2 separate regions of the Homo sapiens genome follow, and region 1 is linked to region 2. A link means that fine-mapping ties the variant in region 2 to the expression of a gene that starts in the linked region. Tissue or cell type: atrial appendage. Region 2 holds a variant in brackets; the other region holds the start of a gene. All regions are shown on one strand. Distances are from middle to middle. Region 1 holds the start of ABCB4 (ATP binding cassette subfamily B member 4). Region 2 overlaps ABCB4 (ATP binding cassette subfamily B member 4).

Region 1 (17,734 bases), 23 kb after region 2:
CCAAATCTATGTGTGATTGGTGTACCTGAAAGTGACAGGATTAATGGAACCAAGTTGGAAAACACTCTGCAGGATATTATCCAGGAGAACTTCCCCAATCTAGCAAGGCAGGCCAACATTCAAATTCAGGAAATACAGAGAACACCACAAAGATACTCCTCGAGAACAGCAACTCCAAGAAACATAATTGTCAGATTCGCCAAAGTTGAAATGAAGGAAAAAATGTTAAGAGCATGCAGAGAGAAAGGTCAGGTTACCCACAAAGGGAAGCCCATCAGACTAACAGCTGATCTCTCGGCAGAAACTCTACAAGCCAGAAGAGAGAGGGGGCCAATATTCAACATTCTTAAAGAAAAGAATTTTCAACCCAGAATTTCACATCCAGCCAAACTAAGCTTCATAAGCGAAGGAGAAATAAAATACTTTACAGACAAGCAAATGCTGAGAGATTTTGTTACCACCAGGCCTGCCCTAAAAGAGGTCCTGAAGGAAGCACTAAACGTGGAAAGGAACAGCCAGTACCAGTCACTGCAAAAACATACCAAATTGTAAAGACCATCAAGGCTAGGAAGAAACTGCATCAACTAATGAGCAAAATAACCAGCTAAAATCATAATGACAGGATCAAATCCACACATAACTATATTAACCTTAAATTTAAATGGGCTAAATGCTCCAATTAAAAGACACAGACTGGCAAACTGGATAAAGAGTCAAGACCCATCAGTGTGCTGTATTCAGGAAACCCATCTCACGTGCAGAGACACACATAGGCTCAAAAGAAAGGGATGGAGGAAGATCTACCAAGCAAATGGAAAACAAAAAAAGGCAGGGATTGCAATCCTAGTCTCTGATAAAACAGAATTTAAACCAACAAAGATCAAAAGAGACAAAGAAGGCCATTACATAATGGTAAACGGATCAATTCAACAAGAAGAACTAACTATCCTAAATATATATATTCACCCAATACAGGAGCACCAAGATTCATAAAGCAAGTCCTTAGATACCTACAAAGAGACTCCCACACAATAATAATGGGAGACTTTAAGACCCCACTATCAGCATTAGACAGATCAACGAGACAGAAGTTAACAAGGATATCCAGGAATTGAACTCAGCTCTGCACCAAGTGGACCTAATAGACATCTACAGAACTCTCCACCCCAAATCAACAGAATATACATTCTTCTCAGCACCACACTGCACTTACTCCAAAATTGACCACGTAGTTGGAAGTAAAGCACTCCTCAGCAAATGTAAAAGAACAGAAATTATAACAAACTGTGTCTCAGACCACAGTGCAATCAAACTAGAACTCAGGATTAAGAAACTCACTCAAAACCGCTCAACTACATGGAAACTGAACAACCTGCTCCTGAACGACTACTGGGCACATAACGAAATGAAGGCAGAAATAAAGATGTTCTTTGAAACCAATGAGAACAAAGACACAACATACCAGAATCTCTGGGACACATTTAAAGCAGTGGGTAGAGGGAAATTAATAGCACTAAATGCCCACAAGAGAAAGCAGGAAAGGTGTAAAATTGACACCCTAACATCACAATTAAAAGAACTAGAGAAGCATGAGCAAACACATTCAAAAGCTAGCAGAAGGCAAGAAATAACTAAGATCAGAGCAGAACTGAAGGAGATAGAGACATAAAAAACCCTTCAAAAAGTCAATGAATCCAGGAGCTGGTTTTTTGAAAAGATCAACAAAATTGATTGACTGCTAGCAAGACCAATAAAGAAGAAAAGAGAGAAGAATCAAATAGACGCAATAAAAAATGATAAAGGGGATATCACCACTGATATCACAGAAATACAAACTACCATCAGAGAATACTGTAAACACCCCTACATAAATAAACTAGAAAATCTAGAAGAAATGGATAAATTCCTCAACACATACACCCTCCCAAGACTAAACCAGGAAGAAGTTGAATCTCTGAATAGACCAATAACGGGCTCTGAAATTAATAGCTTACCAACCAAAAAAAGTCCAGGACCAGACAGAATCACAGCCGAATTCTACCAGAGGTACAAGGAGGAACTGGTACCATTCCTTCTGAAACTATTCCAATCAATAGAAAAAGAGGGAATCCTCCCTAACTCATTTTATGAGGCCAGCATCATCCTGATACCAAAGCCTGGCAGAGTCACAACAAAAAAAGAGAATTTTAGACCAATATCCCTGACGAACATCAATGCAAAAATCCTCAATAAAATACTGGCAAACCGTGGGCGCGGTGGCTCACGCCTATAATCGCAGCACTTTGGGAGGCTGAGGCGGGCGGATCACAAGGTCAAGAGATCAAGACCATCCTGGCTAACATGGTGAAACCCTGTCTCTACTAAAAATACAAAAACTAGCCAGGCGTGGTGGTGGGGACCTGTAGTCTCAGCTACTCGAGAGGCTGAGGCAGGAGAATGGCGTGAACCCGGGAGGCGCAGCTTGCAGTGAGCCCAGATAGCGCCACTACAGTCCGGCCTGGGCGAAACAGCGCAACTCCGTCTCAAAAAATAAATAAATAAAATAAAATAAAATAAAATAAAATAAAATAAAATACTGGCAAACCGAATCCAGCAGCACATCAAAAAGCTTATCCACCATGATCAAGTGGGCTTCACCCCTGGGATGCAAGGCTGGTTCAACATACACAAATCAATAAACGTAATACAGCATATAAACAGAACCAAAGAAAAAAACCACATTATTATCTCAATAGATGCAGAAAAGGCCTTTGACAAAATTCAACAGCCATTCATGCTAAAAACTCTCAATAAATTAGGTATTGATGGGAGGTATCTAAACATAATAAGAGCTATTTATGACAAACCCATAGCCAATATCATACTGAATGGGAAAAACTGGAAGCATTCCCTTTGAAAATTGGCACAAGACAGGATGCCCTCTCTCACCACTCCTATTCAACATAGTGTTGGAAGTTCTGGCCAGGGCAATCAGGCAGAAGAAAGAAAGAAAGGGTATTCAATTAGGAAAAGAGGAAGTAAAACTGTCCCTGTTTGCAGATGACATGACTGTATATCTAGAAAACCCCATTGTCTCAGCCCAAAGCCTCCTTAAGCTGATAAGCAACTTCAGCAAAGTCTCAGGATACAAAATCAATGTGCAAAAATCACAAGCATTCTTATACATCAATAACAGACAGAGAGCCAAATCATGAGTGAACTCCCATTCACAATTGCTTCAAAGAGAATAAAATACCTAGGAATCCAACTTACAAGGGATGTGAAGGACCTCTTCAAGGAGAACTACAAACCACTGCTCAACGAAATAAAAGAGGACACAAACAAATGGAAGAACATTCCATGCTCATGGATAGGAAGAATCAATATCGTGAAAATGGCCATACTGCCCAAGGTAATTTATAGATTCAATGCCATCCCCATCAAGCTACCAATGACTTTCTTCATAGAATTGGAAAAAACTACTTTAAAGTTAATATGGAACCAAAAAAGAGCCTGCATTGGCAAGTCAATCCTAAGCTAAAAGAACAAAGCTGGAGGCATCATGCTACCTGACTTCAAACTATACTACAAGGCTACAGTAACCAAAACAGCATGGTACTGGTACCAAAACAGAGATATAGACCAATGGAACAGAACAGAGCCCTCAGAAATAATACCATACATCTACAACTATCTGATCTTTGACAAACCTGACAAAAACAAGAAATGGGAAAAGGATTCCCTATTTAACAAATGGTGCTGGGAAAACTGGCTAGCCATATGTAGAAAGCTGAAACTGGATCCCTTCCTTACACCTTATACAAACATTAATTCAAGATGGATTAAAGACTTACATGTTAGACCTAAAACCATAAAAACCCTAGAAGAAAACCTAGGCAATACCATTCAGGACATAGGCATGGTCAAGGAGTTCATGTCTAAAACACCAAAAGCAAAGGCAACAAAAGCCAAAATTGACAAAAATGGGATCTAATTAAACTAAAGAGCTTCTGCACAGCAAAAGAAACTATCATTAGAGTGAACTGGCAACCTACAGAATGGGAGAAAATTTTTGCAATCTACTCATCTGACAAAGGGCTAGTATCCAGAATCTACAAAGAACTCAAACAAATTTACAAGAAAAAAACAACCCCACCAACAAGTGGGTGAAGGATATGAACAGACACTCCTCAAAAGAAGACATTTATGCAGCCAATAGACACATGAAAAAATGCTCATGATCACTGGCCATCAGAGAAATGCAAATCAAAACCACAATGAGATACCATCTCACACCAGTTAGAATGGCAATCATTAAAAAGTCAGGAAACAACAGGTGCTGGAGAGGATGTGGAGAAATAGGAACACTTTTACACTATTGGTGGGACTGTAAACTAGTTCAACCATTGTGGAAGACAGTGTGGTGATTCCTCAAGGATCTAGAACTAGAAATATCATTTGACCCAGCCATCCCATTACTAGGTATATACCCAAAGGAATATAAATCATGCTGCTATACAGACACATGCACAAGTATGTTTATTGCAGCACTATTCACAATAGCAAAGACTTGGAACCAACCCAAATGTCCAACAATGATAGACTGGATTAAGAAAATGTGGCACATATACACCATGGAATACTATGCAGCCATAAAAAATGATGAGTTCATGTCCTTTGTAGGGACATGGATGAAGCTGGAAACCATCCTCAGCAAACTATCGCAAGGACAAAAAACCAAACACCTCATGTTCTCACTCACAGGTGGGAACTGAACAATGAGAACACTTGGACACAGGAAGGGGAACATCACACACCGGGGCCTATTGTGGGGTGGGGGGATGGGGGAGGGATAGCATTAGGAGATATACCTAATGTAAATGACAAGTTAATGGGTGCAGCACACCAACATGGCACATGTATACATATGTAACAAACCTGCACGTTATGCACATGTACCCTAGAACTTAAAGTATAATTTAAACAAATTTAAAAAAATAAAGAAAAAAAAACTTCTAAAAAAATAAATAAAACCAGCTTTCATTTGATAAACAATTTATTCTCCAAAGTGCTAATTTTTTTTTAAATTGCCCTTACTGAGGCTTTTTAAACAAATAAAAAAAGAGGAGAGAAGACAATGAATAGGGGCTTTTGGTTACATGAGAAGTATGCAGCAGTGTTTGAGAGTGTGGATGTTTTGGTGTCTTTTTATCCATTTAATTACTAAGTTGGATTTCAGCTGACATGACACTTAATTCTAACTTCTTTGCTACCAAATAATGGCTGTCACAGTTTGAAACACGTCATATTTACCAAAAATGGGCAAATGCTTTCTTGAGCTGCCTCTGTAAGACATATTTCAAATGAAAACCAGATGAGGAGACTTCTTCCAAAAATATTGTCTTGTCTTGTACCAACAGAAAAGCACCGAAAACTGTTTTAAGCATAATCAGAATTCCTAATAGTTACCCCCTATTTAGCCAATTTTTTGGAAACCAAATGTGAATGTAGATTCCTTAAATTAAAATTTATGTACTTAACAATTACTTTCTTGAAATGCAAGCTTATTTTAAGCTAAATTTGGGGTGGGGGTCTGTGAAGCAAATGCAGAAATGCATTTTCTTGAAATTGTTGAGTTTGCATTGTGCTACTAACACAATTCCCATTTTCACTTTCCTTGCACACCAGTTAGCTCTGTCCGGTGTCATCGCCAGCCTGTCTCTACTTTTTAAAAAATCATCCATCTTAAGAATGTGGGTCATTGACTATAATAAGCCAAACTTATACAGCACAGGTGCAGCAAGGACAATTTATTGCTGTCTGCAGACAGTTTTTTGTTGTCGTTGTTTTTGAGACAGGGTCTTGCTCTGCCACCCAGGCTGGAGTGCAGTGGTGTGATCATAACTCACTGCAGCCTCAGACTCCTAAGACCCTCCTGCCTCAGCCTCCCAAGTAGCTGGGACTACAGGTTCATGCCATGACATATGCTATTTTTTAAGATTTTTATTTTTATTATTTTGTAGAGATGAGATCTCACTATGTTGTCCAGGCTGGTCTCAAACTCTTGTGCTCAAGCAACCCTCCCACCTCAGTCTCCCAAAGTGCTGGGATTACAAGTATGAGTCAGCTCGCCTAGCTAGACAATCTTAAAGTATTTGCTTTAAAGGTAATTGATTCAATACCTCAAATTTGAATAAAAGGTAGGATTATTCACATTTAACATTTCACAGCTTACCAATGTTAATACTCCAATCATTTTCACTGTCTTCGTTTTTTTCCTTTTTTGTTTGCTGTAAAAAATAGAATTGCTTCAATTTAAAACTGTTACAAAATGTTTTACAATCAATTGAACATAAATATGTTTAGTTACAATATTCAACTATTATATTTTCAAATATAAGAGTGATGTTCACAAAATGTCAAAATTATTCAGTTCAACAAACATAGCAAGCACAAAAGTAACTGTCGAAGGTACTACAAAGATACATGGATACATAAGAAATGGTCGCCTGCCTTACAGAGCTCACATACACAGGAAAGATAAGTATGCTAACAGTGTCGCTAAGTCAATTAAGTTATTTGTTTTCTAAAATTAAAAAAAATCATGATTTAAAATTAGGAATGTCTATTCTTCTGAAGGATTGTGGAGAGTGGTGTCAGGCAATCTTGTTGGTGATACATTCAAAGTACATCTAGAATTTAACCACTTATCACCAGTTTCATTGCTGTCACCAGTAGGGCAGCCTCCTGCCTAGTCTCTCCACTTCCACCTATGCCGCTTCAGTCTATCTTCAACTAGCAGTCAGAGTAATTATTTCAAAATGCCAAGCCATACACTACTTCTTTGCTCAAAAACCTACAATGGCTTTCCTTTTTCTTACAATAAAAGCCAAAATCCTTGCATTAACCTCTGAGGTCCTACACGATCTGTTTGCTTATTTCCTCTCTGACCACATCCCTACTCCCAAACCTGCTTACTCTGCTCCAACCAGCCTGGACTCTCTGCTGTTCCATGAACTCACCAAACATGTACCTGACTCAGGGTCTTTGCATTGCCAGTTACCTTTTCCGGGAATGCTCTCCCCTTAGATACCCACACAGCTGTCTCCTCTCATTTCTTTCAAGTCTTTGCTCAAATATTACCTTTAAAATAAGATCTACCCTAACCACCCTACTTAAAATTACAAAGTACTCCCCTTTTGTACTCCTGATCCCCTTAACCTGGATTAATGCTTTTTTCCATGGCGTTAATTACCTTCTAACATTGGCTGTGGTTTACTTATTTAGTATGTACATTATTTATGTCTGTCCTCCGTACTATAATATAAACTCTATGAGGGAGTGTGTGTGTGTGTGTGTGTATGATGATTTATATATATATGATGATTTTTACATAAATATGATGCATTTATCCAGGTAAATGATAAAGTTTTACTCATAAGATGATTCCAAATTATGTAAAGTATTGACTAAAATCACTGGACAAACATCTGCCACTAAATATGTTCAAAAGAATGTGCCATGGGCAATAGCAACATAATTAGAACAAGAATATAACTAATTTGATTGAAGCAGGCTTAACTTCCTTTAAATATATTATCTTTGGTCTGCTTTTATAAAAATTAGTTTCACTACATTTGATTTCATAATCATGTGGTCTTAACTTATTGTTAACTTTCTGTATTTCTCTTTTGAGCTGCTTTCTTCTTTCCAGCAGAAGCTGTGGGCTTCCCCTCTGAGGACTTTCCTGGGTTCTGAAGTGTTACTACACCTTTTGTAGGAATAGCTCCTTTGCACACGCATCAAATGTTAAGCCAGTGCAATACATAAATAGACTTCTTCATGAAAATGCCATCTATTAATAGACTCACAGTCAATCCCTGCCTAAACAGCCAGCTGATGAAAACCATATTTTTCTATTGCGTGTGTAAGTACTTCCATTGGAAGTAACACCATCTATCACTTTTTCAATTCTACATGGCAAAACTAAATTTTCTATGAAAAAATACAATGGTGCTTAGAAGAAATACAGCAAGGTTACTGCACAACCACATTAACAGGCTAAAATAATGCTTCAGTTTAAGCATCAGGTAGGCATGTTTTCAGTTAGCTAATCAAGCCCCTAGCAGCTTGAGGACAAACTACAGAGACTGATAAATTTGTCCCTCTGGGTGATCACTTGACACAGGTCAATTTTTTCTGGGTAGCCTGGTATGAACTCAGAGACCGTAATAGCCTCATAAACTATTTCAGGCTAAAGGCGAAAATGATTCACTATTCCCACAGTGAAAGAGGAAACAAAGACACACGCCATTGACTGGGAACTTCTGCCCCGCTCATAAAGCCTGTGAAGTGAGTTTAACAAGGGCCAGGGGAACCGAGAAAGACATGAAGGCAAAGGAAGCGCTGCTTCCCCCTACCACTTGAACAAAACTGATTCGGATGTACAGAAGTTCCCCCTCCCCACCTATCCTCCCAGAAAGGAGAAATACAAATAAGCCTGGCGATGAGAGGAGGGGGAGGGGTAAGACAAGGAGGAAGAGACATAACAGGGGATGGGCAGGAGGGGAGGGAGTTTTTGCTTCACTGCCCTTGTTCAAAAAGCACAGCCATCAACAGCAGATGTCTGACACCCTTTAAGTCTGAACAATCAGATGATGTATATGAAAGTCATTTGTAAAAGTTTCAAGAGTTACGTAATACAATGAATGTTATACAATGCAGATATTCATTGAATCCCCCCTGCACAAAGGGAAGGGAGCACTTTTCAAGACAGCCTTTTCTTCCTGAATCTGTTCCAAAAGGAGCCTCAGTGACATTCTTTGAGGCCACACAACACGTTTGCTCCAAGGTCAGAACCGGATGCAAGACCCTTCAAAGAAGCCTCCAAAACAAAGGTCTTCAAAGGCATCAACCGATTTTTACAACTTCTTTCCAAGGGTGAACTTAGTCCTGCTGATTGGCGTGTAACGGAAAAGCCAGTGGCTGCTGGGGATGTACCTGCTGATGCCCAGTTCAAAGTCGCCCTCCGCGCTCGTGGGGCGCCAGGCTGTTCCGTTCTTTGCCGCCTCAAGATCCATCTCAGCCTGAGGAGAAACCACAGCCTCAGAACCAAGTACACCCTCTCCGGCGGCCCGGCGCACGAGTCGCGGGGCCCGGGGGCACTGGGTGGAGGTCCGGCCACTCCCGCCCCGCGCCCCACGTCCCGGGTCTCCCTTCGAGGCCAGACGCGCCCGGACCTCTCTCACCTCGAACCTCGCGCGTGTCTGGCAGGGCCTCTGGACGCGCGGGCGCTGCAGCAGAGGGGCCTGGACTTTGCTCGCCGCGGCCTCGCCCCCGCCCCCGCCCCCGCCCCCCACGCGCGTCCGGCCCGGGAAACGCCTACCGTTGCAGCCAGGGCGAGGGCCGCGGCCCGCGAGAGCAGCTCCCGCCGCCCGCCCAGCTCTCTCCCCAGGCTAGGCGCGGGCCAGGGGCGCAGCCTGCCGCTCTTGCCGCCGGGGCGCCCGGCTGGGGCCGCCGCCCACCCTGGCGACCCGCCAGAACCAGCCCGGTCGCAGGATAAGACCGAGATCAGGCTGGAGCCTCGGGTGCCGAGAAAGCCTCGCCTGATGGGCCACCCAAGCCCCTGCAGATGACTGTCACACCCCATGGGCGCTCAGTTTTGTTTTTAAACCCATAGGGGAGACAGTTTCCGGACGCCCAACAATCACAGGGCGGCCCAGGACCGAGAGAGAGCAATAGACTCGCCTCTTGCTTCCGCATCCCCAGTTCTGGTCCAGGTGGCACTGAACCCAATTATCTCCAAGGACGGCGAGAGTCAGCCAGGGCCGGCAGGAACCATCACATTATGCTCCTTGGGGAGGAGGAACGCTGTTGGTGCCCTCTTAGCACTTAAGAGACACAGAGTTTTAGGGCTAGAGGGGTCTTCAGCGATCATCTAATTAAAACCCCGTATGTTTAACATATGAAGAAACGGATGCCCAGAGAGGTGAAGTCCTGCCTGAGGCTGCATCGGTGGAACCAGAGTCTAGGGGAAGCCTCCTGAGTCCCAGTCCAGTGCCCTGGCTCACTGCTCTCATCTAAGACTTCTGTCTGTATTGAATTGTCTCTGCTCCTACCACCTATTTGAGTATGACTTTCTTCTTTCTGATTAATTCCTCCACACTCTTCCCAAAAGGAAGTGTCTAAAACGGGGAGCCATAAGTTTCATGGCTTTGAAACCGGAGACTTTCAAACTCAGAGCTTCACATCTTATTAACTATGTGACTTTGGACACTGTGCTCATTTCTCTAGGCCTGTTTCCTTATATGTAAAATGAGGATAAAAACATCTCCCTTATCAGGTTATTGCGAGGAATAAATGAGTTGAGGATAAGGGAATTAAGTACTAGGTAAAAGCACCTAGTACTATGCCTAAAACATAGTAGGTGAGCAACAAATACAACTTTCCTTCCTTCTGATCAGGTAGCAGGATGACCAGTGGGTCCTTGCACCTGCTATGTCCTGTTAACACAATTGTTAGCCCAAGGCTTGTCTGAGTTCTCAGAGAACCTTAAAGCAGAGCATGGTATAAGTAGAGATGCTGGGTGGACCCTGGTGTGAATCTCACCTTTCCCATGTACCAGCTGTCTGGCCAGGTTATGTAATTCTTGACTCAGTCATTGGATCTATAAAATAAGGGTGTTATTAGGATTAGGGATACTGTGTGTAAAGTGTCCTGCACGTAGGAGACACCTAATAAATGGTGACTATTATTATAGTAAAAGTTCAGGCGAGGCCAAGGAAGAAAGACTGGAACAGGAGCCAGCAGCTTCGGCACTCACCCCTTACTTGTGCTGTGCCTCTGCATCCTGCTCTGCCTGCCACCTGGAGCTAAGGTGGAACTTGACTTGAAACTGCATGCTGGAGTAGAAATGAATTTAGTTGAGTATTTTTCCTCAAAATGTTTTCTCTCCATATCAGTCTACCATGACCATGAGGATTCTCTTCTTAAATCAACCCAAATTCCTTCCCTTCACTGGTCTAACAGGCGGTCAGATCATTATTTCAAGATACTCTGAGACGGAAGCAGTTGGAATTGTGTAGTTTGAAAGAAGGCTTGTGGTGACTGGAGGACATTATTAAACTCATTAGCACATAAGGAGATGACAGTTTCTTCAGTCTCTAATAAAAGAGAATTTGATAAAGTAAATGCAGATACTTGAAGGAGTAGGAAGGTTCAGAACAAAAACTAAAGCAAATAACATGTATGAGGCAATGAGGTGTATTTGCCTGTCTGTCTGTCTGAGCCGATTCACAAAGTTGTCCCTGCAAGAAGCCATGCCTATATGGCTGTGTTTACTTCTTTACCTGTATTACATCCAATTCCAGGAGCTCCTTTTATATTTATTTGATAACAGTGCAGTATCACTGAGAATTCCATCATTTATTCATCAACTAGAAGTTGAAGACTTACAATATTTAAAGCACTATGATAAACTAGATTTCTCCATTACACTCAGGCTGTAAGAAATCTTTACTTTCCCTTTACAGTAGAATATTGAGATACTTATGCATTGATGTAAGGCTGGAATTAATGCCCTACCACGCTATCTTACTTTTTCTATTTGCCCCATTGGTTCCATCTTTCTTTTTTATCCTCACTTTTGCCTTATTTTAGATCTGTTTAATATTATCATTTAGATTTCCTTTCTATAAGATGTATTCTTTTATTTTCTATTTAATAATGATCTCCTTTCTAGGGATTATGACATGTATCTTTGACTAATCATTGTACTTTTTCCTCTTCCAGGACAATGCAATGATTTTAGAACTCTTAAGTCTCTTTTTTATTCACCCCTAACTTTTACATTGCCATTGTCATGTACTTTAATTTTCTCTGTATATTCATGACTCTTCTGGGAATATTATTTCTTTATGAGTTGATACTTATTTAGCTTTATCAAAACATTTATCATTTTCTTGCTTTTTGTTTCTTCCTACATCTCAAAGCTACCCTCTTGGATCATTTTCCTTTCACCTAATGAGCACTCTTTCATCTACTGTCTCTTTCTTGTTTTCTTTAGTTTGTGACAAATTTTCTCAGCTTTTTTTTCCTGAAAATTTATTTCACTTTTATCTTGAAAAATTATCAGTTATTTATGGGTTTGCCTTACTAAATAAATATCAAAACTCATTATCAAACTATGGTAATTAGAGACATGTGTTTTGGAATGAGACAGACAAAGTAAAACAGAATCAATATCTTATAACTGATGGAACTAGAATTCGAATCCAGGGAGTATCCTTATCCGCTATGACTAGCAGGGAAGTGGAGATGGAGAACATACGTCAGATGTATCAGAGAGTTAAACACAGTCATTCTTTAATGCATCCTTCAGTCCACTGATCTTACCACCTTTTTACTGTTCCTCACCTCCTTCATGTCTTCTCTCTTAACTCAGCCTGAAAACACCCACAACCCTCTAGCCCTCTCTCTTTATCAGGCTTGCTTAGTAAAACCACAATCCTGGATAATTCAAGTTACTGAGCTACTGTGAACCTACACCATGCAGCAGAACATGTCTGAAGAAAAATACAAAGTCATCGGGCTTGCCTCGCCATGAACTTACATGGCCCTATACTGTATACATAATGTACTTATTATGTTTATTATTTATTGCCCACTCTGTGGGATGCAAGACTTATGAGGGCAAAGATTTTGTAAAATTCACTATGTATCCCAACGTTTACTGACCAATAGTCATAAGATGTTTTCTTAGTTCATTCACTCACCTGCTTTTCTAATAATTATTTCATATCGTCTGTTTTCTCAAATTCTGTTCTTTTACATCTTCACATTCTGCTAAATTACCGTGCTTATTTCACTGATGAAGTTGAAGTGTTTAGAATGGAACTCCATAACCTCCTACCATGATATTTTTCCACTTACCAGCATCTGTACCAACACTCTGCCTTTGCTGTTTCTGTAAATGAACTATTCATGCCTCTCTTTGCAGCCAGTCTTTGTTTGCATGTTCATCCTGTAGATCCCATCCCCTTTCACTTTCACAAGGAGCCATTCTTCCCTTTCTGTCCTATATCATCAATTTCCCCATGCCTGCTGGATCCCTCCTGTGAGCTTACATACATACTGTTATTTCTTCCATCTTGAAAAACAAACAAAAAACCTCTCTTGACCACACTTCCCCTGCCAGCTACCATCATATTTCCCTCTTTTCCTTTGGAGCTAAACTGGTTGGCAAAGTTTATTACTTTCTTCAATTCCTGTTGTTCTCTCTGAAACCCACTCTAAACAGAAGTTTGATCTTTCCACACTACCGAAACTATTTTTATAAAAGTCACTGATAATCTCTGCTTTGCTAAGTCCAAAGATCAATTCTCTGTTCTTATTTTACCTGACAAATTCAATAATTTGACAGATTTATCACTCTGTCTTTCTGAATATATCTTTTTCATATAGATTCCAGGACACCATATGTTTCTCGGATTTTCCTATGCTTTCCTGATCACTCTTCCTCAGTCTCCTTTGATGCCTTCTCTCTCTCTCTTTTTTTCAACTACTTACCTAACACTGGAGTGGTCCAAGGCTCATTCCTTGGACTTCTCAGTCTATTCTCGCCACTTCTGTCATGTCAGTCAGTCACACAGCTTTAAATACCATCTGTATCGAATAATTTCTAACTTTTTGTTTCTAGCCTAAAATTCCCTCTTGCATTCCTGACTCTTAAACACAAGTGCATCTTTGACATTCCTATCTGGATGTTTAACAGACATCTCAAGCTTAACATGCCTAACCTGCTCCTGATCCTTTCCCCAGGCTGGGCCCTCCAGTGAACTTCTGCATCCAGTTGGCAGCTCCAGACTTATAGTTGTCAACAAAAACACTGGAATCATCCTGCATTCCTCTCTTTCTTTGACACACCATAATCAATCTGTCAGGAAATCTTGTTGCCTTTACTTTCAAAATATATTCAGAATCTGACCTTTGCCCTGCACCTCCAGCTCTACCACCATCATGCAAGCCACTATCATCTCCACCTGATTTTCTATAATAGCTTGTTAATTGTCTCTCTGCCTCTGTCCTTTCCTCCTCTTCCGCCTTTGTCCATTGTCAAAAGCATGGCCTGGATGATTCTTTTGAAATGTGAGTCACATCACATCACTCTTCTCTTCACATTTCTGTGGTAGCCCCCAATTCACTCAGTCATGGCCTACAATGCTGTGCCCTCTCCGTGACCTCTCTGATCTCATTTTTATTTATTTTGTCTTTGCCTAACTCCACTCCAGCCACACTGGCCTCTTGGATATTACTCAGACAAGAGAGGCAGCACTCCACCTCAGGGTGTTTGTACTAGTTGTTCCCCCTGTCCAAAATTATCCTCCCCAAAATACTGACATGGAGGACACTCTCACCTCCTAAAAATCTCTTCTCAATTAGAAGTTGGATCTTGTACCCTCAGGACTCTCAGTTCCTCTTATCCTACTTTGATTTTCTTTTCCACAGCATTTATCACCTTCTAGTATACTATATCATTAAAGAATTTATTATGCTTATTGTCTCTTGTCATCTTAGTAGCACATAAGAGCCGTGAGAGTAAAAATATTAATATGTTTTCATTTCATTCGCTGGAATATCCAATAATTGCTGCCCACACTTACTATGTGCAAGGACCTGGGCTAAGGTTTTAGGATAAAAAGTTTTAGGCATATAAAGAAGGATTTAAACAAGGCTAATGCAAAAGTTACTCAGATTATATAGTATTTTATGAATTTACAGAGCCTATCACACATATATATCATCTCATTTGATTCTCAAAACAAGGAGCATGTTCAAGGTAAACAAGTGAGGAACTATTATTCTCAGTTTAGAGGTGGGGATATCAAAGTGAATTTTACACAGCTAGTAAACAATGGAATTAGGCTTCCAGCTCTGGCCACGTGACTTCAGCTTCTCATTCTGTATTCCTATTGAAGACCACTGTTAGACAGAAGCCTTACCTGTTGTATTTCTAGTGCCCACAGCACCAGTGGGCTCAGTAAATGTGTATTGAATAGATCAATATTTTTGAACTATAGCATAAAAGGGTTTGTACAAAAAGAATTTCCTATAAGTAAGAGTCAACAGAGAATAACAAATTCCATCTACCAAAGTATTTTCAAATTATATTCAAATATAAATTAATTAGCAACAATTTTTCCTAAAGAGGGTGCTATGATGGACTCTATTCTCTGTCCTGTTGACTTATATCTTGACAAATATGCTCTGTGGTCTTTTCCCCCACTATATTGCATTTGTGGCTATCTAACAATTCTCCAAATTTTCATGTCTGAAGATAGTGAAAATTTGACTATTCTGTTTGCACTTGGCTGCACTTAACTACTCTTGAATCATTTCCAAACTTTTGGTCACTAATGTTTTTTACTTCTGCTCAAACTACCTTCTCAGAGTTTATAGATCTTAATTTTTCCTGCCTTTACTTCCTTCAACCCATGTTACATCTTATACTTCTCCCAAAGTTTTTTTTTCTTTTTTAAAAAACCCTTCTCATTGCTTGACTCAGAAATTTTTTGCTTTGCCTTTGACCTTTCTCTTAAAAATATTATTTCCTTTTGGTTTCGTTCTTCTTTTGTTCATTATAAAATTCATCTAATTCGGCCCAGCACACCCAAAGGCACTCATAAAGATGTTGAAGACAAGGGTAATACTGATTCAGCTCTCTCTCTCTCTGTTTTCCACTAAACTCTTCCTTATACCTTCATAAACTAGGGTGGACTTGCAAAGGTACCATGACAAGAAGTAGTTAGAAGAATTTGCTATTAATCACTATGTTATATCATTTCTGCCAACGTGGATTAATGGGCACATTGAGAGTTCCAAGGTCACATTGCCTAATGAAATTCTTGTGTTCTGTGAGAGTAATGAAAACCACTGGGTGGACAGGGAGGGCTGCAAGGTGCCAAGGCCAACGATGAAATGGATAAGCAAGAGTAGGGTCACTAGGCTTAAGGTTATTGACATTTACTAACTCTTAAAGTTATTCTAAAGCTAACGCTTTTCAAAATAAAAGAATGACTAAAGGAAGTTCTCTAAATAGAAAATTATAAACAGGAGAAACTTAGAATATCTAGAATAAAGAACATGGTCAAGAAAAATATTGGTAAATACAAGAAACTTTCCTCTTCCTATTGAGTTTTCTAAATTATTTTTTATGGGTGAAGCAAAAATTATATCACTGTCTGATGTGGTTCTAAATATAAGTAAGGGAAATACATAAGACAATTACAAGTGAATGAGAGAGAGTAAAGGGATATAAGGGAGATAAGATTTCTACACTTCACTCAAACAAGTAAAATGATGAAAATAGTAAAGTATGATAAGTTATTTATATATAATGCAATACTCAGAGGACCACTAAAAAATCTACACAAATAGATATAGTCAAGACTACCACAGGTAGAGAAGAAGGGCAGGGCAAGATGGCTGAATAGAAGGATCTACTGATTGTCCCTCTCTACAAGAACACTAAATTTAAACAACTATCTATACACAAAAAGCAACTTTATAAAAGCCAAAAATCAGATGAGCACTCATAGTTCCTAGTTTTAACTTCATATCGCTGAAAGAGGCATTGAAGAGGGTAGGAAAGACAGTCTTGAATTGCTGATGCCACCCTTCATCCTCCCAGCAGTGGCCACATTGTGCGGAGAGAAAAGCTATGTGTTTGGGAGAGGGAGAGCACAGAGATTGTGAGACTGTGCATTGAACTCAGTGCTTCCCTGTCACAGTATAAAGCAAAGCTGGGCTGAACTCAGTTGACACCTGCCCACAGAGGGAGCATTTAGATCAGGCCTAGCCAGAGGGGAATCACCCATCCCAGTTGTCGGAACTTGAGTTCCATCAAGCTTCATCACTGTGGGCTAAAATGCCTTGGGGCTCTAAATAAACTTGAAAGTCAGTGTAGGCCACAAGGACTGCAACTCCTAGGTGATTTCTAGTGCTAAGCTGAGCTCAGAGCCAGTGGACTTGGGGAGGCACATGACCTACGGAGACACCAGCTGGGGCAGCTAAGGAAATGGCTTGCACCACCCTTCCCCCAACCCCAGGCAGCATAGCTCATGGCTCCAAAAGAGATTCCTTCCTTCTGCTTGAGGAGAGGAAAGGGAAGAGTAAAGAGGACTTTATTTTGCATCTTGGTTACCAGCTTAGCCACAGTAGGATAGGGGACTGGTCAGAGTCATGAGACTCACATCCCAGGCCCTAGCTCCTGGACATTTCTAGACATACGCTGGACAAGAAGGGAATCTACTGCTTTGAAGGGAAGGAACCAGTCCTAGCAGGACTCATTACTTGCTGACCTTTGGGCCCCGAATAACCATCAGTGATGCCCAGATAGTACGCCATGGACATGGACCTTGGGTAGGACTCTGAGATGTGCTGGCTTTAGGTAAGATCCAGCACATTACCCGCTATGGTGGCGGTGGTGAGAGACTCTTTGCTTGAGAAAAGCAGGTGGAAAAGTAAAGGAGACTTTGTATTGCACCTTAGGTACCAATTCGGCCACAGGGTCAAAGCACCAAGCAGGCTCTTGGAATCCAGGCCTTGGCTCTTTTATGGCATTTCTGGACCCGCCATGAGCAGAGGGTGCCCACTGCCCTAAAGAATGAGTTCCAGACCGGGCAGCATTCACCACAAGCTGATTGAAAAACCTTTGTGCCTTAAGTGAACCGTGGCAGTAGCCTGGAAGTACTCCCCT
Region 2 (14,725 bases):
AAGGCTAATATAGCATTTTATTGCCTGAGTGGGTCTATTTTCTCAAACTACCTATTGTTCTCCTGAATACATACAGAGTTAAAAAGATTTTTCAAACCTATTTCATTGACTCACTCACAAATGCCACCAGAAAGAAACATTTTCAGTCAGTATTATTATTCCATCCTATATGATTTTCTCTAACTATGCATGGAATTACATAGACGGTTCAATATAAAACATGGCAGATTTTGGCCCTATGTAATGCTCCTAAAAAGCACCATGTCACATATATTTTTAAAGATTTTTAACATAAAAAGTAACAGTTTGCACATCATAAAACATAAAATCACTCCAGTGTGCACTGGTTAGCAATTCCTTTACACAGTTATTCTGTACTGTAGCATACAACACTTAACACATTTCCCTTCACAGTATTTTTTCACTAGGAAAATGAATTGATATAAAGAAGCTCAGAATACAGCTTCAGGAATCCAGATTATTAGCATAACTTAACTGAGAAAAACATAAGTGAAGATAAATTATTTTTTTCTCTCAGGGCATGGTAAAACTTCTACATATAATTTGGCTTTTCTCAAAACACAGCAACACTTCATGTTACCCATAACTCAAATATCAGTTAAATATCTATCCCCCATCTGCAATACAGATAAGGACCAGTAAGAAAGAAAAATAATGTTGACCAAAATAGTTGCCATAAGGTTAATGCAATAGAGTCCCTGCCCTCTATGCAGAGGGCTTTGCTTGGGCTCCCTCTGGGGATAGCAATCTCAGCCCTACCGGATAGGTGTCATTATCCACATACTACAAATGAGGAAATTAAGGCCATAGAGGACAAACTCATCACCAAAGGTGAACGGTTGTCAGGATTCAACCTCCCTTCTTCATAAAACATCAATAGTAAATGAGGAAGTGAAGAAAGGGTAGCAAGCTTCCAAACCGACTGCCAGAGAGAAGATGGAAGTGAGAAAAATTAGACTCAGCATTAATGAGGGCTCACCAAGTCGAACACCCACAACCTCTCAATGAAGTCTGAAGATACCACTGCATAAAGCATTCTGAAAATATTCACTTTCATAATGACCCCAAGTCATCATCAAAGGGCCAAATTATGCTCAGTATCCTCATTTTAGCAAGATAGGGAAGTACAGATGTTAAAAGATTTCTATTTAAATAGTTACATATTGTTCTGAGTCTCTGACATGAAAAGATGGTCACAAAATATTGGTAGTTCATAAATGTGGTTACAAAAAGATATACATAGTATGATCCCAGTTTTGAAAGAAAACAATGTGTATATATATAGAAAATGACCTGGAAGATATATGCCAAAAATTATCATCAAGAGAATATAAATTATTAGATTGTAAGTAATTTTAATTTTAAAAATTCTGTATCCTAATCCTTTGTAAAATTAGTATATATTATTTTAACAATCATAAAATGAAGCTATCTTCATTTTGATAAATAAAAACAAACTAACATAACATCTCTTCTTGTATTTCAGAGAGCTGATTGTTTTAAGTGATATAAATGTAACATTTTCTTGTGCAATGACCTATTCTGTAATAATGATGCTTACTTTCTTATACAATAAAACTCAACGGCAGAGGGAGGATGGCTCCCATCCATATTTGTTTATTCCTAAATTCATCCCATTTTTATTTCCTTTTATACATTGTATATGTTTCACAAATGGTCTAACCACATGCTATTTTCTTATCCACACTCATAATTATGACTTGTATATACTAGAAAGTCAGCTCTGCCCACTGGACAGTGGAAAGATTCACCAAAAACAAAAACCTATAATCATGTTCATCTTTCAAAAAGGAGCGATATCAAAGAAAAGAGAAGGTAGATGGAGAAATAAGATTTTCATATTCTTCATAAATGTTAGGAGAACTACTTACTGTCATTGCATTTCCAATAGTATATTCTTTTGATATGACTAGAGTGGATCCATACCAGAAGGCCAGTGCATATGATGCATATATTAACAGGAAGGCAATACCCATGGAAATGTTTGCTGAAATAGCTTTTTTAATTCCAATCTCTTTGGCATTTTCTAAATGTTTCTGATACCTACCAGAAAAATGAGAGGGAAAACATTATAATTAAGAATAACAATCCATAGTCCGAGTCACACTCGGCTCCTATATAGTTGGAGGTTTAAGTAACAAAGTCAGTCAAGGTAATGAACCCATGGTGAGACCCAGATCTTTGGGAATTGAACTAATTCAGGATCAGCCAGGCCTAGAACAGATCCAAGCCTTCTCTTTACTGGCCCGGTTCCATTTCCCTTCATCCATTCCAAGCCAACCAACATTCCTGTGGTTATTCCAGAATTGAGGGCTCACCCTGGGATATGGAAGAGCTTCTCCATCACCTTCACGGCAATATCACAAGTCAGGGTTAAGAGGGAATGAGAGAAACCAAGCCAAACCAGAATTGATTGTAAATGTCACTGGAACTCATAAACAGTTAGATTCTTAACTCTGGTCAATGTCTCTTCTCTGGAGAAAAGAAAATCGTCCCTCTATTGTCCACTGGGTGAGGGATGAAAATTTTACATGTTGTTGTACATAAACATAGGCTTCTCTCTTTGACTTTTTTAAAAATCAGGCTGACCTTCATCTGTCAAGCTAGATACAGGTTATAAGGTAGTCACTACTTATGGAATATGAGTTCTTATTCAATTTTTCCAGACTTTAGTTTCATATATGAAAAATGGATTTAATAATGCCTAATTTGCAAGATAATTGTGAGGTTGGTAGATAATTGTAGAAAGTAGTACAGTAGCTGGTTCATAGTTAGCAAGCCTGATCATTTCTCTTACTATTATATTAGTATCATTGTGTTCAACTTTTATCTCTTCCTGAGTTTTGCTCATTCTATTACTATCATATCTTTGAATCATAATTCAAATGCATTATTACTGGCTGCTGGCATTTGATATAAAGTTTAAAATATCTAGAATGATTCTGTTAAATTACAATTTTTTTTCATCAAGTTAAATCAAATCTACTTTTTCATACTAGACCCAGAGGGTATGTAAAATTTAATTTGGGCTCCCTGAAATTTAAAGAAAAATCCAATGGGTATGCAATGACACTTCGAGGGGAAAATATCACACAAACTAGGATATTTTTCTTTGTGACAAAAAAAAACAAAAAACAAAACACAGCAACACCAGTTTTAGTGTTGAACCAAATAAAACATGAGAATTCATTAGTCTTTTAAAAAACATATTCTGCCATCAGAAGGTTTGTCTTTTTTATTGCGTAAAGCACCCAGGTCTTCAGGGTGCTTTCCTCTGGTTGGGGGCTGCATTCATAGAGCACAGCTGCATCTCTGGGGGTAGCCAGCAGGCCACAGCTAGCGCTGTGATTTCTCCTGTGTGGCTGAGCCTCAAGGCGTGGCAGGAAGACTTGCATCTGCCCAGTGTGACACACAGCTCCAGTGACAGCAGCGGACACACTGTAATTACCTTTGCTTAGGTGGCTCGCTTACCGGGGCTAATGGAGCGGCACAGATTACAC[T/C]GACATCCTGAGGTCCAACTGAGGGTTAGTGTGGTCTGTGTGGACTATTATGTACAGGAAGCAGCAGTGAGAGAGAAAAAAGGAAGAGGTTAGAGGATCAGAAACATGTTGGCTTTGAAGAGGGATTAAGGAATAGAAAAGTAGAAAATTAAATGGGGGGAATAAGGGAAACTTTGTTTTTAATGCTAGAGAATTTCCAGAGAATTTTTATATCCAAGAGTTGTGAGTATCAAGAGTCCCATAGAATAGCCAAAGAAAATACTTTATATGGAATCATACTTCAACTACAGTAGGGGATATTGTTATTTAAATAAAACCCTAAGTAATTATTTTCATTTAAGTAGAGCAGAATAGCCTTTTTCATAGGTGTATTCTTATCCCCAAACTCATTGAGATATACACACTAAAGATGTATACACAGCTTTTCATATGTCAATCATGCCTTGATAATTTTTTCAGAGAAGAGTTTGCAACATGCCTCCAGATACTGGTCAATTTTCCAGGCTTATCCTGGATCATTAAAGTTGAATGCCAGAGGCCTGGGTGGGAAGCCCTGCCTCATTGTTATGGAGGACCCACAAGGCCCTACAAAGAATTCTGGGCTATAACTAGGAAGTCGATGTTTTCTCAGGTTTTTCTCTTCTATATTCCAGTTCATAGTCATTAAGGAGTAAAATAAAATAAAAAATATTTTGATAAGTATTTTTAATATAATTATTTTCCTTTGTAACCCTACTTATTTTGTTTTTTGGGGCTTTTATTTATTTATTTTTTGGTTTTTAAAAAATTTTTACTCTTTTTTTGTGATAGAGGCTCACTCTATCATCCAGGCTGGAGTTCAGCTCACTGCACCCTTGACATTCTGGGCTCAAGGGATTCTCCTGCCTCAGCCTCCTGAGTAGCTGGGACCACAGGTGCACACCACCACACTCAGCTTATTAAAAAAAAAAAAAATTGTAGAGCCAGGGTCTTACTACATTGCCCAGGCTGGTCTTGAGCTCCTGGATTCCAGCTACCCTCCTGCCTTGGCTTCCCAAAGGGCTAGCATATTTTGGTTTATGCATTTAAAAACAAGGGAGTCCATTTGTATTATCACATAGCCAAAAGAGTCCATGGAACATAAATGATTAAGAATCTTGCTTTAGAGTCTGACATTCAACTATAGCCATCAGTAAAGGGTGCTTATAATTTATGCGAGAAGGGTTAATATTAGGAAAGGGAAGGTAAAAAACACATACCACAAAGAAGAAGCAACAAAATGTAAAAACACATTCCTTAAACCAGTGGCTAAAGAACCTTCCTGACCTTTCCAGCTCTTTGTTCTGGCCCCCGAAAGCTATCACAGTCCTGATGGCCCCCAGAGCCTCTTCTGCCACGGCGCCTGCTTTTGCATAAGCAGCTAGTTCTTTGTCACTAAATGCCGAGAGTATCTGGACAGAAAAGAAACAGTGATCACTTTTGTATAGGGAGAAAAGTTTAAAGGCACTCTGGTCAACCCTTTAACCTACTTTTTCTTCCCAAACCCTCTCCTTTAACAAATATTAAAGTCATGTAGCAAATGCCAGTGTTCTGGATCCAATGGCTGCGTCCACATCCCTCAAAGGCTATATCTGACCCACCCTGGTGATAGGCTCCCCAAGAGTACTCAGGAAAAAAGAAAATCCACACATAATTCTCTAAATAGCACTCTTGGGAACACTGTCAAGTTCCACATCTACTGTTTTTCTTTGTTAGTTGTAAGGTAAAATAAAATAAAACTTTACTGCTTTGAAAGAATTTACCATTCTTAACTTTATTGTGTCACAATTTTTTTTTTTTTTTTTTTTGAGACGGGGTCTCACTCTGTTGCCCAGACTGGAGTGCAGTGGCACGATCTCGGCTCACTGTAACCTCTGCCTCCCAGTTTCAAGTGATTCTTCTGCCTCAGCCTCCCGAGTAGCTGGGACTACAAGTGCACACCACCACGCCTGGCTAATTATTTGTATTTTTAGTAGAGACAGGGTTTCACTGTGTTAGCCAGGATGGTCTCAATCTCCTGACCTCGTGATCCACCCACTTTGGACTTGTGTCACAATTTTTAATTACTATAAAAACAATACTTCCAGACCTCCTCATGGGCATTCTGCTGAATAATAAGATAGCCAAACAAGATGTTTCAGGAGAAAAGCAAAGGAAGAATCAAAACAAAAGAGATACAGGTAGTTCACTGTGTAAATCATCAACGTCAGGATGAGCAAAAATTGCCAGTAAAATTTCTCAACTCTGAAGTGTTGGCTAAAGTAGAATACATTTTGTGTATTTTATTGCCAGGCAAAACTGGCAGAGTGCCACTTAACCATCACAGGTAATGATTAAAACAAATAGAACAAATACAAACTCTATTTAAAATTTTTATGTTCATGCAATAATTTGAGGGAAATGTTATATTTTAAAGTTGCACTTCCTTAACTAAGGGTAATCGAAGTAAGAACTGTGAATTTTTTTTTTTTTTGAGATGAAGTCTTACTCTGTCACCCAAGCTGGAGTGAAGTGGCATGATCTGGGCTCACTGCGACCTCCACCTCCTGAGTTCAGCGATTCTCCTGTCTCAGCCTCCCAAGTAGCTGGGATTACAGTCATGCACCACCACGCAAGGCTAGTTTTTCATATTTTTAGTAGAGACAGAGTTTTGCCATGTTGTCCAGGCTGGTCTGGAACTCCTGACCTCAAGTGATTTATGTACCTTGGCCTCCCAAAGTGCTGGGATACAGGAATGAGTCACCACACCCAGCCTGTGACATTTTGAATTATGTTAAAAATTAATTTCCTTATGAAAGCATCATATTAACACCATGTTACTGGATGTAGTTTCAACTGACATTTAATGTAGACCTGAACAGGTACAAGTACGAGACTTCTGCATATTAAAGATTACTGTGTGCAGGGGTTAACACACATAAAAAGGCCCAGCTTTCACATACCTTTGCCCAAACGGCTGCAGAGAGTCCTAGAATAGGGCTGATGGCCATTATCACAAGGGTGAGCTTCCATCCTCTGATGAATCCCACTATGAATCCTGCAAAAAACGTGGCTACTGCTTGAAAGAACATTCCAACCTTGTCACCAATTCCTTCACTGATTTTGGAGATGTCACTAAAAAAGATCACACCTAAGTGGTTACAGGCAGGAGGTTTCAGTTAGAAAGATGAAGTAGACATCCAACAAACACATAGACAAGTAAAATTTGTTCACTGACTGCAAGCCTCTTTCAGAGTCTTAGCCTCTTGAATAACATCTTCCCCACCTAAACACCGCACAAAGGAAGAAATTCAGGATTGATCAATGCTTCTAATAAGTTAGTATCATTAAGTTGATACTATTAAATGAGTCAATCCTATGAGAGAAGCATTAACATTTTGAGCATAAAAATGTATCTGTTTAAAAGCAAGAATTAAGAAGAACATTGCAACAATAATAAGCAACAGTAGTAGGGAAGTATTACTGCATTTCTTCTTATAGGGAAGTAATAGGGAAGAGATCTTTGCTTCTACTCTTGTCCCTATTCCCAACCAAGTCTATTCTCAACACAGCAGCCAGTGGGATGCTTTGAAAATGCAAGTCTGACCATGCTACTCCTCAGCTCAGAAACTTCCAGCGGCTGCCATTTCACTGGGTGAAAGCTGAAGTCTTGAAGTCTTTGTGGAGGTTTACAAGGCCCTAAATGTCTTGCTTTTCCCTTTTTTTTTTTTTTTTTTTTGACTTATTTGCTCAGGATGCCTTTGCCAGGACTCCCAGTCAGGAAAGTTTATCATCTATCTCCCTCTACTGGAATGTAAGCACCAAAAGGACAGAGATCTGTGCTTTGTTCACTGATATATTACGAACACACAGAATGGTACTTCGCACATGAAACACCCTCAAATATTTGTTGAATAAGTGAAGAGTTGACAATTACTAAAGCAAGTCTCTTTGTAAATTAATTCAATCATCTATTCATTGATTCAACCATCTTTACTGACAGTCTAGCACCTGTCACGTCCTGCAGTAGAAAGTTCCATGAGAAATAAACAGGTATAAGATGTGAATTCAGTCCTCAAATAAACCTACTATGCACCTTGGGGGAAAGCCAACATGCAATGGCATAGGCTATAGATGCTGCTAGACATGGCTGCCAGATGATCGATTTCTAATATAGATCAGATGCTCAATCTAGTAACATTTTTCATTTAAAATCTTTCCTTGACATATTTTCACACAGTAATTAATTTCTATATGAAAGTGTGACATTAACAATGTACCTACTCTGTTAGCCGCGTATTGAGTTCAGTGGTGTCGTTGATGTCAAACCATCCTATTTCCTGTCGTAGAATAGCATGAAAAAACTTCTGCCTAATTTTCCTGATCTGTCGACCAGCTGCCAAAGTCCAAAATGAAACTTGTATATAGGCAGCAACAAGAACTCCAGCACCCAATCCTGAGTAGTAATATGCATATCTGAAAAAAAAGAGAAAGGCTCTATTAAATACCTTCTCTTTTCTTTTTTCTTTTCTTTTCTTTTCTGAAACTGAGTCTCACTCTGTCACCCAGGCTGGAGTGCAGTGGCACCATCTCAGCTCACTGCAACCTCCGCCTCCTGGATTCAAGTGATTCTCCTGCCTCAGCCTCCCGAGTAGCTGGGATTACAGGCATGCACCACCATACCTGGCTAATTTTTGTATTTTTAGTGGAGATGGGGTTTCACCATGTTGGCCAGGCTGGTCTCGAACTCCTGACCTCAAGTGATCTGCTCACCTCCGCCTCCCAAAGTGCTGGGATTATAGCATGAGCCACCACCCCCACCCTACCATCCTTTATTCATCTCTTTCAGGAGAAATTTTCAGAACTGGAAATTAATCAATTTACTAAACTTAAAACAAAAACTGTATAGGACATTATAACAAACAGACATTACATTTTTCTTTTTTTAAATTATAAAGTGATGAGCTCCATGATGGCAAATCTATTTACTTGAACTGTTAGCCAAAGAAAATGGATAAATTTTTGTTGTTAACTGCAAAAAAGTTAATGATTTGTTTTTAACTGATATTGATAACTTGTGGATACAATTTAACTCCTCTTTAATAATTATATTCTAGACTTGTATATCTTATTGTACTGAAAAGTTCACTACTATTTACATATTGCAAATATAGTAATAAGCAGATTGAACATGTGAAATCGCCCTTTCCATATTGATTTTTCCACATTCTTTATAAAAAGAACCAAAAAACTTTGTTCCTATTTGTCAGAATTTGAAATATTTTAAAAAAAGATATGATAAAATGTCATGAATTCAAACGAATTTGGAATGTTTTACCAAATTAGTAGAAAGTTAGTATTTTAAAAAATAATAAGTACATATCAATACTTTCAAATTTTTATTATCTAATTTTATAAACTGCTTCCAGATAGACACCTTTCAGGCCTTTTAGCATACAGACAGCACTCGTTACAATCAGCAACACTGCTATGCAGACATACAAACATCATGCTTACAGGCTTTAGAGATTTCTATTGAGAAACTAGAAGGAGGAGAAAATGCCATAAATGACATTATTGGATCAAATGACAAAATTGGAATATAGATGTTATATTAGATAAAAGTACTGAAATTTACTGAAGCTAATAGCTGTACTGTGATTATGTAAGAAAATATCCTTATTCTTAGGAGTCATACTGCAGTAAAGGGCCATGATGTGTGCATCTTACTTTAAATTGGGATTTGGGAGCAAAAATGATAATAATAGGTGAATCTGGGTAAAGAGTACACGTTATTTGTATATTCTTATAACTCTGTAATTGGAAATTATCTTCAAATGAAACTTTAAAAAAGTAGACCATATATATGAGTTACCTAGTCATTTCTTCTTCCAGAATTTTGCCTGGATTTAGCAGCGACAAGGAAAAGTTCACTAAATTAAAAAATAAAATAAAACATGTTAAAAGATCAAACTATTAATAGGCATTGCCAGGTTTTTAAAAATCTGTTAATAATTTAAATGTATGAAAGCTAGAAGATGCTATTGTTAAGTTTCTCTTTAAAAAACACTTTTCTTTGCACACTTAAGTGCATTCTTTTCACTTTACTCAAGTAAAGAGCCCAAGGGTTTAGGTACTGGACATTAAGGGCCAAGAAAGGGGAAGATAAGCCCTCCCAGGTCTTTCCCCCATCCTGGCGGTCTCAGCCTTTAGCAAAGCAGCCTTCTAAGGAGGCACAGAGGAGCCACTGAAGAGACAAGGAAGCCACAAAACACACAGAAGACAGAGGAGGGAATAAGAAATATTTAAAATAGAAAACACAGGATTTAAGAGGCATTTTTTTTTTTTGGTGGCTCAAAGCACTTTATAGAACTTCAATAAATTTTATTTTTATATCTGTGTGTTTTTTCTTTACATGTCTCATATGACATAAGTAAGGGAAAGGCTAAGTTACATCCATCGCAAAGGAGGAAAAACTAGACAGGGAAGATAACTTAGTTGCTCAAAGGCATGTCAGTGATCACTGGCAATTAGTGAACATCCTGCATTCCACCTCTTGTTTACCAGCACTGCTGTATTCTAGTATTTTTTGAAGCAGTATTAATTGGAAAGAAATCTATTGTCTATTAATTTGAGCTAATTTGATAAAATGTCAATGTATCTTTCCTGATTTCCATGTTTTAATAATAGCTAATGTTTATTGAGCATTTATTAAATACCAGGCACTGCTCTGAATACTTTAGGTGTGTTAATTCATTTAATTATCTTATGAGGTGAGACTATTTCACAAACCCCATTTTATAGAATAGGAAATGGAGGCACAGATAAATAAAGTAACTTACTCAATGTCATACAGCTAGTAAGTGGCAGAGCTGAAAGTCAGCCCAGGCAATTTGGCCTATGCTCGTAACACTATACTATACTGATTTATTCATGTGACAATGACTTATTTTTATTTTTTAGAAAAGACAAATGAAAAAATAAGAAACAGCCTACATCTACTGCATTCACAAAATAATAGGATAAAATATCACCACAGCATTGTTGAGAAAACACATCAGGGTACATATTTCTCATTTTCCATGGTCCTAGGAGAGAAATTGGTCTCTTTGTTCCTTTGCCATGTGTAAATAGCCCAGGGGTCGTGTTTTCGTGTTTTCGTGGTGCTGTGTATCCTCCTTATCTTTTTCCAAAGAAAGATAAGGTTGAAACTTATTTAAAACTCAAACTACTGTCAGGATCAATTACCAGGCATCTGGCCCCAACTGCAGCATCATCTTTCCCCCAGGATTATAATTTCTACTGATGTTCACAGTGAAATTTCCGATTATTAATCTAGCTCTTTATAAGCTATCAGAACCTTGAAGATTCATACCCTATTTTACTTTTCATCTTATCAGTTCCTTTCTGTGTGTTCATTTCCATCCTGAAGTTTTAAATAGGGCAAATTGGAAGAGTATTTGGAACTAGAGGCAGGCAAGCTATTCTAAAGCTGTGGCATTTGTAAAAATCATTGTGGTTTTTTTATTTCCCTGAACTGAAAAATTGGGTGAAATCTTAAATAAGTTTTTCCTCTCTTTCAACACCTACCTCAAACTTTTAAATTCTCTCAATAAGGATACTGATATGGTTTGGATATTTGTTCCCTCCAAATCTCACGTTGAAATGTGATCCTCAGTGTTGGAGGTGGGGCCTGATGGGAGGTGTTTGGGTCAAGGGGACAGATCCCACATGAATGGCTTGGTGCCCTCCCTGAGATAATGAGCGAGTTCTCACTCAGTTCATGTGACAGCTGGTTGTTAAAGAGAGCCTGGCCTCTCCCTCCTGCTCCCTCTCTCTCCATGTGACACATCTGCTCCCCATTCACCTTCCCTCACTGAGTAAAAGCTTCCTGAGGCTTTGCCAGAAGCCCCAAACAGATGTGGGTACCATACTTTTACAGCCTGCTGAACCATGAGCCAAATAAACATATTTTCTTCATAAATTACCCAGTCTCAGGTATTCCTTCCTAGCAACACAAAATGGACTAACACAGATACCAACTCAAATTGACTCTCCCTCCTAGGAAAGAATCTATGAGCGTTCCAGATTGGACCCGCTCCTTTCTCAGAGTCTCAAGAATGGAAATCTAGTGCTGGGTTAGTAACCTGAGGAGCTCCAGAGTCCCCGGGGAAACTCAGAGTTTCTGCTGCCTGGGACAAAGGTGAACTAAACATATGTTGGTGTGTTGCCTGAAAAGTCATGGCCTGCTAGATCTGAAAAGAGCCTACTCCTGGTCTTGTCAGATGCTACCTATTCTGCTTCAGTCTCATAAACGATATCTACATGGTCATTTGGCTTGGTGGTACTTAACGCTGTCTGTGCATTAGAATTACATGGGGAGCTTAAGAATTACAGATGTTCAGGCTCCACTCAAGCCCAATGCAGCCAGAATCTCTGGTTGAGTCCAGAGCATCACATTTTTATAAAGTGCCCCCCGCCAGGCCCGGTGGCTCACACCTATAATTACAGCACTTTGGGAGGCTGAGGCGGGAGGATCACTTGAGGCCAGGAGTTTGAGACCAGCCTGGGCAACGTGGTGAAATCCACCTTTACAAAAAGTTGGCCGGGCATGGTGGCAGGTGCCTGTAGTCCCAGCTACACAGGAGACTGAAGCAGGAGGATTACTTGAGCCCAGGAGCTCAAGGCTGGAGTGAGCTATGATCACTTCACTGCACTCTAGCCTGGGCAACAGAGCAAGACCCTGTCTCAAAAAAGAAAAAGTACCCTGGTTGATTCTAATATGCCAGGATGGAGAACTTACACCCCAGTCCACCTGAATGCCTCCCGTAGTAAGGAACTGGGGAACTCCTGAAGCTGCCTGTTCATTTTAGAGAGTACCTATATAACCTATCCATTTTACAGATGAAGAGACAGAGTGGGTTGTTTCATTTCCAAGTTCTTATAGCTAGTTTGTCCCAATATTTATTGATCATTTACTATGTTCCAGACACTTTACACAAATCATCTCACTTAATTCTATCAGTAAATTGATGCTTACCTCTCAAAGATGAGAACAGTAAGGATTATAGAGGTTAAGAGACTTGCTCATGGTCACACAGCTTATGGGTGAAGGGTCTGAATAAGCAGTGTATACATTAAGGATTAGATAGGGAAACATAGTCTTCATTTTCACTTTTGAGTCTCAAAGTAAATCAATGTCTGCCTTCCCGGATTCTGCCCAAGACTTCTTTTTTTTTCAAAGGGGAAGAAAGAGAGGTATCCATCACCTCAAGCATCTCTCCTTTCTTTGTGTTACAAACAATCCAATTATGTACTTTTAGTTATTTTTAAATGTTGCCTAGGACTTCTTTTAACACATAGAACTATTCATTATAAAATAAAGAGCTGGTGTTTGTTCAGGCACCCTAGGCACTATGGACAGTTATGAAGATATCTTGGGGGCTCAAAATGGCATTTTTCCCCTCAAACAAGAGGCAATGCAAGGACAATCAGGGTGCAGCTATTTTCCCGCAGAATTTTCTAGACTATTATAGTCACAGAGACAGCATAAAAGATATCAAGTCCTTGACACTCTGCAGAAAAACTGTTTTCTCCAACTCCGTCCTTAATGTTTTGGATGCAGAATGTTGTGTGCATACTTTCTGCACAACTGACTCATTGTGAGGGAACAACCCTGTCATGGAGTGGCTTTATTCTGTTGACAAGGACGAGCTTTGCTCACAATAAGTCATTGTCAGACCCTCTTGTAATATGAACCTTTTTTTCTTCTAACATGCCTTTCTCATTTGGCTCCTATTAAGTCTGGTTGTCCAAGCATCCAACAATTCTAAAGAATAGACTAAGTAAACATCTCTAAGAGATAAGCTGGAACCTCAGCTAAGTACCTCACTCTATCTGTTCCCAACCCCCATGATTTTTGTTAAACTCTACAACTCTCAACACATCAATAAGCAGTCTGGATTTAGAGTGAGTATCCTTTAAAGATTTCATTGTCTTCTAAGAGGTATGAGAATATTATTTTTACAAACGACCAAAGAGTGGATGCTGGAAATTCATAACATTTGAGGAACTTTCCATCTAAATACTCCATAGCATCCAGTAAGCCTAATGAGAAACATGGCTACAGGGTACCAAGCATCATAACAGGAGTGTTTATAATTCGGAGGCTACCAAAACAAAGTTGGCAACTCTCGCGAGTTTATCTCTGTGTCAACCACAGTTCTGTAAGTGACTTGCTTGTGCCATTCCCCAGAGAGACCTTGAATTTGGCACCTCTCTGCCATGTCCAGCTTAAAGCCATTCAGTTTCATAATTAGGCACAAGTTAAAAAAAAAAAAAAAAGCAAACTGCTCCAAATAAGAAAGTTGGGAATTATTCTGGTATTAGTAAAAACAAAAACAGAACTAATAAAATTGGTCCAAAAGAGAAATGATGTGTGATAAGTGAATTGCATTGCTTTAATCTGACTTTAAAAATTTTAATTGTGATAAAATACCTTACATAAAGTTTACCATGTTAACTATTTTTAAGTGTACAGTTCAGTACTGTTAAGTATATTCACACTGTTGTCCAGCCAACCTCCAGAACTTTTTCAACTTGCAAAATTGAAATTCTATACCCATTAAACAACAGCTCCCCACTGCTCCTCCCCACAACCCCTATTAACCACCATTCCACTTGCGTTCTTATGAATTTTACTCTAGATACCTCATAAAAGTAGAATCGAACAGTATTTATCTTTTTTTGAGTGGCTCATTTCATTTAGCGTCATGTCCTCAAGGTTCATCTATGACATAGCATATGTCAGAAGTTATTTCCCTTCAAAAGGCTGAATAATATTCCATTGTATGTATCTACCATATCTTATTTTTCCATTCATCTGTTAATCTGATTTTTTTAACCCTGTGTAGAAGCCATTTAAAATTTTTTTTTTACTTTAAATTTATTTTTTCTTGGTAAAGGTGTATACGTCAACAGTTACAAGCGAGAATACAGGGAGACATCACACCCACCCATTTTCAAAGCCACTCACTTTCTCTCCCTAGAAGTAATCATCAGTTTCTCTACATTATTTCACAGATATTTTATGGACATATAAGTGCTTCGCTGGAAGGCTAATGTGAGTCACCAAGAGATAATATCTGCGACACTTGAAAAGAGGTGCTAGACCATACATGAACAGA

What was found. PIP is the estimated chance that this variant, and not a neighbour inherited with it, causes the effect.
Region 1: it holds the start of ABCB4, and the variant in region 2 is fine-mapped to the expression of ABCB4 in atrial appendage (GTEx, PIP 0.97).

The regions. Positions count from the first base shown.
Region 1 is chr7:87,466,407-87,484,140 of GRCh38, forward strand. ABCB4 (ATP binding cassette subfamily B member 4) reads right to left here and starts at 9,274. Exons shown (of 28, transcript NM_000443.4): 1 at 9,228-9,274; 2 at 8,980-9,065; 3 at 6,215-6,269. The coding sequence starts at 9,059. RefSeq lists an enhancer at 8,461-8,530 and silencers at 9,001-9,140, 9,151-9,350, 9,401-9,650.
Region 2 is chr7:87,445,121-87,459,845 of GRCh38, forward strand. It overlaps ABCB4 (ATP binding cassette subfamily B member 4), which reads right to left. Exons shown (of 28, transcript NM_000443.4): 5 at 9,415-9,472; 6 at 7,824-8,015; 7 at 6,503-6,674; 8 at 4,848-4,972; 9 at 1,914-2,085. Among named protein-coding and RNA genes, the nearest start is that of ABCB4, 23 kb to the right of the region's middle. The variant T/C (reference allele first, on the strand shown) is at 3,543.